2 separate regions of the Homo sapiens genome follow, and region 1 is linked to region 2. Evidence: fine-mapped expression QTL. Tissue or cell type: NK cells. Region 2 holds a variant in brackets; the other region holds the start of a gene. All regions are shown on one strand. Distances are between the middles of the regions.

The links. PIP is the estimated chance that this variant, and not a neighbour inherited with it, causes the effect.
Region 1: RAD51B starts here. The variant in region 2 is fine-mapped to the expression of RAD51B in NK cells (Gilchrist 2021, PIP 0.95). The same link has a PIP of 0.9 or more in sun-exposed skin.

What each region holds. Positions count from the first base shown.
Region 1 is chr14:67,816,682-67,821,801 of GRCh38, forward strand. It overlaps RAD51B (RAD51 paralog B), which reads left to right and starts at 3,098. Exons shown (of 11, transcript NM_133510.4): 1 at 3,098-3,172. RefSeq lists enhancers at 121-290, 341-440, 2,931-3,225, 3,485-4,246.
Region 2 is chr14:68,591,669-68,596,873 of GRCh38, forward strand. It overlaps a transcript of RAD51B not described here. Among named protein-coding and RNA genes, the nearest start is that of RAD51B-AS1, 91 kb to the right of the region's middle. The variant C/G (reference allele first, on the strand shown) is at 2,874.

The DNA of each region.
Region 1 (5,120 bases), 780 kb before region 2:
AATTAAGTGCCATATTTGTTTGAGTCACGTGACGCCACCTCTCCGGGAGTAGGGAAAGCTAGAAAGCTCGGAAAGAGGAAATCAGCTACCTGGCTGCGGACCATCTCCCTCAATTGTGACAGCTCCGGCGCTCAATACTTTCAGTTCTGCATTCGGCCGAGCAGGTGGCAGGAAGAACTGTGACCCTGGATTTTTTTTTTTCTTCCACTCTCTTATCTCCTTAACATGTGAAGTCAACATTTATTGAACGCCAACCAGTGATGGTGTTTTGCCAGGCGCGGGGGATACCCGGAGCTAGGAGAACTGGGTTCTCCTCCATTATTATTCTATCTACTGGGCTCTTTTGTTCCGGAACTCTGCGGTCTGAATTTCCATATTCTTCTGCTTCACTCCATTCATTTATTTGCACATTTACCCTACAACTGTTAATTGAACGGTGTGCTAGGCTTTATTTTATTTTTTTAGAGACAGAGTCTCTCTGTCGCTGGAGTGCGGTGGTGTGATCTCGGCTCATGGCAGCCTCGAACTTCCTGGATCAAGTAATCCTTAAGCCTCAGCCTTCCTGTAGTAGCTGGGACTAGAGGCGCGCGCCACTACACCGGGCTTAGGCCCTATTCTCTAAGTTGAGTAAATGGAGGTCCTTCTTCTCAAGGGAGATGCAGGCCAAAAATTAGGAGACGGTGGGCTAAATTATAAGACAGAAGTATGCATAAGAGATCAGAGAGCAAAGAATGAGCAAAGGCTTTTTCGCAAACACAATAATCTGAAACCAAGTCTTTTGTTTTGAGACAGAGTCTCGCTCTGTCTCCCAGGCTGGAGTGCAATGGCGCGATCTCGGCTCGCTGCAACCTCCGTCTCCCGGGTTTAAGCGATTCTCCTGCCTCAGCCTCACTGTGTAGCTGGGATAAGCGATTCTTCTGCCTCAGCCTCACTGAGTAGCTGGGATTTACAGGCGCGCGCCACCACACCCGGCTAATTTTTGTATTTTTAATAGAGACAGGGGTTCACCATGTTGGCCAGGCTGGTCTCGAACTCCTGACCTCAGGCAATCCGCCCACCTCGGCCTCCCAAAGTTCTGGGATTACGGGCGTGAGCCACCGTTCCCAGCCTGAAACCAACTCTTGAAGTAACGGCTTACTAGGTTTGCTCACCACAGCTGCCTTACACCAAGCCTTTTGTTTGGTTTCCCTGGTGTGCTTTAATCACAGACTCTCAGCTTTCCTCACTATGTGTGTTTCAGGTTTAGTAATTTCATTCAGCATTTCCCAAACTATTTAATCACCAAAGGGTGGTGAAAAGAGCAAGTTAAAACAAACAAAACGTTTTCTTCCAAAAACTCTTCTGTGATTGGTGGATTGTCCTCGATTCCTGAGAAAAGTAACATGGCTTTCTGGCCCATTAAGGTTTTTTTTTTTTTTGAGGCAATGTCTGGCTCCTCTCACCTCAGCCTCCCAAGTAGCTGGGATCACAGGTGCCTGCCACCATGTCTGGCTAATTTTTGTATGTTTAGTAGAGGCGGGGTTTCGCCATGTTGGCCAGGCTGGTTTCGAAATCCTGAGCTCAAGTGATCTGCCTGCCTCAGCATTCCGAAGTGAAACCGCCTTTGCAAAATTATAACTGAGGAAATTATGACAGTGAAAGAAATCAGACCTAACCGACTCTATCTTGCTTCTAACCGTTAAGCTGTCCTTGTTCATTCCTGGGCGTAGGCTGAACTAACTTTGGGGAGGAATTCAGTTCATGGTTTGACTCTGAAACAAAATTGATAACAGCCCTTTCCGAAAAGACCCACTTCTTGCCTGGGGACCAGTCTGCCTTTGCAGGACTAACAAATTAGCTACAAGTTTAGAAATTACAGTTTAGAGGTCATGCAGCCTCTGGCTCCAAGAGTCTGAACCTCCCCAAATTGCTCCCGGGGGTGACATCACTATTGCAAGCCCTAAGATCAGTGCTTGAGATATTTTGTAGACCCTGCACTCCATGGATCAGCTGACACCACTCAGACCAGTAATTTGGCGCAACCAGTTTTGCCATCACACCCAGGAACAGAAGACATTAAGAAAACCTCACTTCGACCCCTTATGATTCCATCTCCAACCTGACCAATCAGCACTCCCCACTTCCTAAGCCCCTACCAGCCAAATTATTGGTAAAAACTCCGATCCGCAAATGCTCGGGACAACTGATTTAAGTAACAATAAAACTTCAGTCTTCCGCACAGCTGGCTCTGCGTGAATTACTCTTTCTGCATTGCAATTCCCCTGTCCTGATAAATCGGTTCTGTCTAGGCAGCTGGTAAGGTGAACCCATCGGGCAGTTTCAAAAGTGCTGGGATTACAGGCATGAGCCACCGCGCCCAGCCTATTTTTTGTATTTTTTTGTAGAGGCGGAGGGGTGGGGGAGGGTGTCTCACTATGTTGCCAAGGCTAGTCTCGAACTCCCAGGCTCAAGTGATCCTCCCGCCTCGGTCTCCCAAAGTGCTGAAATTACGGGCGTGAGCCACTGCGTCTGGCCCCTTTAAGCCATTGTGAAAAGTGATGATACACGAAAAAAAAGATTTCCAGGGCCGAGAGCGGTGGATCACGCCTGTAATCCCAGCGCTTTGGGAGGCCGAAGCGGGCGGATCACGAGGTCAGGAAATCGAGACCATCCTGGCTAACACGGTGAAACCCCGTCTCTACTAAAAATACAAAAAAATTAGCCGGGCGTGGTGGTGGGAGCCTGTAGTCCCAGCTACTAGGGAGGTTGAGGCAGGAGAATGGCGTGAACCCAGGAGGCGGAGCTTGCAGTGAGCCGAGATCGCGCCACTGCACTCCAGCCTGGGCGACAGAGCGAGACCCCGTCTCAAAAAAAAAAAAAAAGAAAGAAAAAAGAAAAATTTCCAAACAGGGTGTTCCCTTGTTTCACATTCTCTTTGGTGATGGTCCTGCAACAGATTTTGATAATCACTATATTGAGAAACTGCTTCAGATTCGATCTGTTAGGCTGATCATAGTATTAACTACAATTCCCAGCAAGCCGCGGAGCCAACCTGGGCCTCTGCCGGCCTCTGATTGGATACAGTAGCCAGAATGACGACTCAATCAGTGCTTCGGTTGTTGCTTTGCGGCGTTTTCCGCGGGGAAACTGTGTAAAGGGTGGGGAAACTTGAAAGTTGGATGCTGCAGACCCGGTACTGGAAAGTTTCATGTGGGGTGCCGTTGTGGGGAAGTGGGGTTCGCTCATTATTTCCTGCTCCTTCCCTAGGCTCGTGGGTTTCGATATTGGGGGAGCGGAGATTTTCTCTTGGGTGCTGGTCACGCCCCCTTAAGACTCGGGATCGTCACTAAGAACCCCGCTGTGAATTGGGGGAGCTTCGGGCCTTCTTTTGGTGGGGAATGCTTGGAAGCTGCTCATTGTTGGAAAAAGCTCTTTTTAGGGGATTCTGGGTGATGTTTCCGCCTGTTGCTGCCCATCTTCCTCCCCAGCCCCTTCCCGCTTCGGGCAGCCTGTCATTAGGGGAAGTTGAGGGACTCTCCCACTTCAGGTGGTGTTGGAGAGCGTGGAATCTGGAGTCCGGTCCCTGGATTCGAATGCGAGCTTCACACCAATTGTCAGCTGTTTAACTTTGCCCAAGTTTCTCAACTAGTTACCTCAGTATCCTTATCTGTAAAGTGAGGTAAAATATCCGAAGCCTTTGGAACAGTGTGGCACGTAATAAGGGCTCAATAAATATTAGCTAATATTGTTCCTAAACAGTTGTTGAACATCTAACATGAAGAATTTTCTTTTCTTGGTGGTAAGGAGGACAGGGTTCATTCTCCAGGGTTGACCGTCTCCCCTCATGTGCAATACACATACGTGCTTTCGCGCACACATACACCGCAGGAATTTACGTGCTCCGGTGGGGGCAAACAAACTTGCAAGCCATAATAGTATTTTGATAAGATTATCGAATAGATATGTGCGAAGTTGATGAGAACATTGGAGAGGAAAAGACTTGACTCTGGGGAAGGTTTTGTGGAGGGAAGTCAGGGAGACAGGATGCGTGACCTACCAATACACATACCATGTGGCTGGAGGGCAGATCATGTGAGAGTCATTAAATGATGATTGCTGACCTTAAGTACTATGTGCCACGCACTCCCCGAGTCCTTTAACCTCCACTACAGTCATATGAAGTAGTAAATTCATATGACTGTAAAACAAGGGTTTTAAGGAAATTAAGACACTGAGAGGTGAAGTAACTGCCAGGAAGGATAGGAACTGAACGTTGCAATGTGATGTATGAGTGAGAAGGAAGTGAGGGACCAATTTTTGATGTTTTTCTCTGCGACCCTAAGAAGTTTGGAATTTATCCTGTGGTCTACCAGTCCCATGGGAAGTGTTAAAGGATAATCGTGACTTTTTAGGAAGCTACTCAAGGCAGGATTGTGACACTGATCTGACTTTTGCAGGCGAATTTGGGGCTTCTTCCTGTCTGCTTCCATAGCACTTTTAAATAGCAATTGTAATGCTTACTGCATGGCTGTAGTTATTTGTGTGTACCTCTCTTTTCATCTCAACTATGAGTATTCAAAGGGGAGGGAATATGCTTAAATGATTCTTGTACCCCAGACCTCAGCAGGGTGTGTATTTAAATGCCTGTGGAAGGAGTAAATTAAGGAACAAATGAATGGAGTGGCCAGAAACAATATGCAATAGTCCAGGCAAGTGATGGGAGTGGCCCTATTAAGGCAGAAATGGCAGAATTGGTTGTTGTTAAAGTCCTTGTAGTTTAGAATTTATAGTTTTTTGTTTGTTTGTTTTTTGTTTTTGATAGGGTCTCAGTCTGTTCCCCAGGCTAGAGTGCAGTGGCATGACCACAGCTCACTGCAGGCTCGACCTCCTGGGCTCAGGTGATCCTCTCATCTCAGCCTCCTGGGTAGCTAGGACTACTACAGGTGTGCGGCACAATGCCCAGCTAATTTTTGTATTTTTTTGTGGAGACAGGTTCTCTCTATGTTGCCCAGGCTGGTCTCAAACTCCTGGGCTCAAGCAATTTGCCTGCCTTAGCCTCCCAAAGTGCTGGGATTGTAGGCGTGAGCTACCTTGTGTGGCCTATGGTTCTTTTCTTTCTCCTTCTTTTTTTTTTTAAATTG
Region 2 (5,205 bases):
AGTGAAAATGAAAGGGTTCCCCACAACCAGCTGCAACAAGGATCTCTCACCCTGTTGCTAAGGAGTGGTGGGGTCCTGCTACCATGTGGTGCTCTGGCAGGCCTGGGGAGATCTTTAGGGATCTGGAGCAGCCACTGGATGTGCAGTCCTGAGCCCCTGGGATGTGGAAGTGATTGGCCGGCCACCTGGATGGGCCTCACAGTCCTACTGTCACTCCTCTTCTCTCCTTTCACTTCTGGATCCTGCTAGAGAAATGGAGCCCGGGGAAACTGTCTCACCACCTAGGACTGTGTGGAGCTGGGCACACACTCAGGAGGCAGGTGACTTCCAGGTAGTCAAAGAGAAGCTCACACTCCCTGTCCTCTGATAGTCCTACTCCCTGAAGGATCTGGTCAAGCCATTCCTTCCAGATGGCCGTGATACTGTGTCCCCTCAGTATTAGGAGGGGGGGAATTGATGCTTTCCATGAATGAAAGCTCCTAAACCCCCTCCCCCGCAGCTAGGGCTGATGGGGAATGGCTAAACCCCAGATGTCTTCATTGCACCATAAATGTGAGCAGGGAGGTACAAAGGGGTAGGCAATGATGTGTGTGTGTGTGTGTGTGTGTGTGTGTGTGTATGTGTGTGTATCAAAGAGAGGAGTCTGTCACAGGAAAAATACTGAGTGGCCCCAAATGTTGTAAGCGTATGCACCCCAGTTTTACAATAATAACAATCATAATACTAATAATTTTGCTATCATTTGTTGAGATCTTTTTCTGGGCCAGGTACGGTACTTTGCACATATTATCTCATAATTCTCAAAATCTCTGTGAGGTACAAGTATCACTATGCAACTTTTCAAATGAGAAAGCGAGCATGGAAAAAAAGTTGGTTCAATTGCCAAAGATCATAGATCTGAGAAGTGGCAGGGCCAGGATTAGAATGCTAGAGCTCAAAGTTCTTCTGCCACGTATCATAGAAGCGACCACTACATCGATAATGGTAACTGCCAACCCTCACTGTTCACTGGCCACATGCCAGACACATAGATTCACTTAATTCATTCTTACAAAACTCTGGATGTATTCTTATTGCCTCATTGTATAGATGAGGAAACTGAGGCACAGAGCATTTTGGCATTGATTCCCTTCGGCAAATGTGATTTGAACAGCTCCTATGTGTGTGCAGGGCACCGTGCTCTTGGCTCTGCGTGGGATATGGGACTGAGTGATACGTCATTCTTATGGTCTGAGATCAGGAAGGTCCATGGCCATGGCCATCAGAATGGGCTCAGGGTGGGATTCCAGAACTTGAAATGAGGGACCTTGCATCCTAGGGTATGCTAGAAAGTGGAACATACCAGGTCTCTAGAGAAGGAACCTAGGCACAGAAGCAAGACAGAGTCCTGTTGTCAGACTGAGGCACCAGGTCAGAACTGGGCCAGCAGCAAGGGCTGGCGGAACTGGAACTGATTTATTCCCGCCTGCAGCATGGCCTCGAGGGCAGGGCTCCAGAGCTAGGCTGCTAAGTTCAGATCTTCCATTCTTTAGCTGTGAGACCGTGGGCAAGTTAATGAACCTCTCTGGGTTTCAGTAGCCTCGTCTAGAAAACAGGAATCATAACTGCCCACCTCATGGAATTGTTCTAAGGACTAAATGAGTTAATATGTGAGAGGCTCTTGGAACAGGGCCAGGCCCATGATGGGCTCTCTGGTGGGCTCTCAAGCTCTCGCCAGCCGATGATCATTGGGCCCTTTGATGCTGAGTGGGCAGAAGCTGCAGGTAGGGGACAAGTTGTCCCAGTGGCAAACAGAAGAAAATTGTAGTAGGAACTGATTAGGGCCTGTCTCTGTAGGTGGTTTGATGGGGAGGGAGAGATGAAATCCAATGGGACAAGAGGGAATTCACATCATTAGTATAAAAGGTTGGCAAATGGGCATGGGACCCTTCCTTCTTAGTCTCCAGAGGCCAAGATGCAGGTGCCTGGCACCTGGGCTGGCTGAAAGTGGGGAATGTATCAGGGCTGGCATTTATAGTGATGCCACTATTGTCTAATTATGGGCACAAAGAGAGGCTCCCACTGTCTGTGCAGCCCCTCAAATCACCCAGGGAAGAAATATTGGTCTATTCCCAGCATTCCCTCTGTCAACTCCCCAACCTCAGTCTCTGGCTTGGAAGAAAGACGGCTGGGAAGGGGGATGGAAGGCAGCCATGCTCTGTTGCAGTAAATCTTTCCTAGAAGAGGAGACAGCTGAGCTCATCAGCCAGTGTCGGATCAGCTCAGAAAGAATCCTTTCCAACTCCCAGAAGACCCCTCAGCGGCTTGGGAAAGGAATGGCTCACTGGGGCACTTTGTTTGTGTATGTGGGCCTGTCAGGCTGGGCAGGGGTGTCTGATGACACATTAGGACAGCTGAAAAGAGAGGTGGGACAAAAATGTTTGCCCAAGGGCAGTCTTGTGATTCCCCCACCCCCCGTGCTCCCCACCCCCACACGCCTTTGAGAGCTTGTTCCAGGACTTTTCATATGCATTTGAGACCACAATTTCCTCTCCCAGAAACCCCATTAAGCTATGAGTGAGTGAGGCGGTGGGGGAGAGAGAGAGGAAAAGGAAAAGAGAGACAGAGCAAGAGAGAGAGTTTGTGTGTGCACACACGAATACTTCTTCCCCACCCGCATTCTTTTGCACATGTCTACCGTTATGTACATTCCTATGCCATACCCCTTGAACTCTCCATCAGGTCTTCCTCAACCATCCTCTTCAGGAAGCCTCAGGGCCTCAGAGAAAGGCAAAAGGGCCTAGACTTTGACTTCCTTTTTTTTCTCTCTCTCTTAGAGACAACATTTTGCTCTGTCACCCAAGCTGAACTGAACTGGGCTCCAGAAATCCTCC[C/G]ACCTCAGCCTCCTGAGCAGCTAGGACTACAGATGTGCCACCATACCCAGCTAATTTTTTAATTTTTTGTAGAGGTGGGGTCTCATTATGTTGCCCAAGCTGATCTCAAACTCCTGGCTTCAAGAGATCCACCCACCTCAGCCTCCCAAAGCGCTAGGATTACAAGTATGAGACTTTGCCATTCCAATGAGAATTTTGTCCTTAGCAATCTCATCCAATGGCCACTGGAGATGTGTGTAGGGCCACAAGAATGAGAAAGGGGGCAATGGAGTGACAGGTGACCTGCTCAGGTGCCCCTCCCCAGACCAAATGTCCCAGGCACACAGCCCATGCCCTCCACCATGGAGTACATTTTCTCCCTGGCTTGCTGCTGAGCTAAAGGACCAGGGACGTGGAAACAGGAGGTGAACTAAGGCACCCCGCCACCCACTGTGGCAGCTTGAATTTCTTGAGGCTGAGACAAACTAGGATCCAGTAGCCTAGATTTTGCCCCAGTTTCTCCACTGAGTATTTACTCAGTGCTCCTGAGCCGATGCCTTCCCCTCTGCCTAGATGAACCACAGCATTTTGGTAAATGCCTCAGCATGTTAGGAGCGCTGGAACGTTTATTCTCTTCCCTCCCAATTATCCACTCTAATGGAGCAGAACACTTACATGGAAAATCCTAAACATGGAAGATGATTTAAAAATGATTCACCCTGGAATACATGCTTCCAGTTGCTTCTACAGGTTTACCTTGCTAAAGGCATTTCGCTTCCTTTGCTGTTACAATAAGCTTGCCTGCCTTGAAGAAAAGAAGACCAGGGCCAAAGGGAAATCAGTCAAGGGAGCCTGTTTTGTCTGAAATAATGCATCCATGAACAAATGAATTGAGTATAACTGTCTTTTTACATCAGTGTTTCTGTGGAATTAAGAGAACATCCAAGGCCACTCCTAGCTTGAGTAGATTAAATTTGTCCTTGTGTTTGGAGCAAGGGTTGTGAAGTCTGTCTGGCCCATCAAATGACCAATGGCTTTTAAGGAAGGACTAAGTGACTTATGACCAGAACAAGGGAGCAGCCTGAGTCAGTCTCCCCAATGTCTACATTGTGTTATTTATACTAGCAAAAAAATAGACACAACTAAATGTTCGACCATATGGTATTGGTTAAATTAACATCTATACGATGGAATACTAGATGGTCATTAAAATTATGTGTCAGAAGAAGGCTTAATCTCATGGGAAAGTGTTCACACCATATTATTAAAGAGAAAAAACAGATTATAAAGCAATATGCATACAATGTAGTAGTTCTGTAAGAAAAAAGTATTATGTGCATTTTAACTGGAAAAATATGTATAAAAATGTTAACAGTGCAATCTCTGGGCAATAAGATTATACTTGACTTTTATTTCTTTTTTGGAATTGTCTTTTTTTTTTTTTTTTCAAGTTTCCTCCCATTAACATGCATGTTCCCAAAATCAGGGGAAAAATACATTAAGAAAAAAAGATTATCTGAGAGACCAGCAGATGTGTTTCCTGTTTCTTATCCCATGTCTATTCTCCATTTTATATTGGAGATTCAAATTCTTCAGCCCTTTCCACAACAGACACTTCTGGGGCAAGAGGCACAGAATATCTGATATCCTAAACAACACCACCAGGGTGAATTTCTCACTGACAGTAACAGCTTTGGAAAGGTTTTGTTTCTACCTGGCGCTGGGAATTAATCGTACCCAAACTTTTTTTTTTCTAATCAGTAATGAGCATCTCCAAGGGGGTCCTAGAAGGGTTCCAGGGGTTCATGGAGGACAATTATAAACCTTGACAGCTGCTCGGTGGGTTTTCAACCATGGGGGTGATTCATCCCTTCTCGTAAGCCTTTTCATAGCACCCTACGCTCAGAGTTTTGAAAATGTGACAAAAAAGAAAGGGGCTGGGGAGAACAATGGCCCTTCTCCTTTTATGGAAGGATGATGAAGGGAATTGGGAAGAGCAAAACTAAGGGACTAAGACAATTCAGCTTTTTTTTGTCTGGCTCATAGGACCGTGTTCCCCATAGAGTAATGCCCAATGAGTGGACGAAGGGAGTAATAAATGAGTTCATAGAAGGAAACAGCTGGGCTGCTGTAAAAGCTCCTGCAAAACAGATAGGCCTGGCACACGCCATTTCTGTCACAGGTTTTAAAGAACCTATCTAGCTTTCAGCTACTCCTCATCACCATCTCCTACAGAAGCAGAGTCAAGATCATGTCTCTTCCCATCGTAAGGAAACAGCACTGCGAATGTTCCAGCTGTCCTGAAGTCACTAATCCCGTCAGGGGCAGACATTGGCAACACACCCAGAAGGTG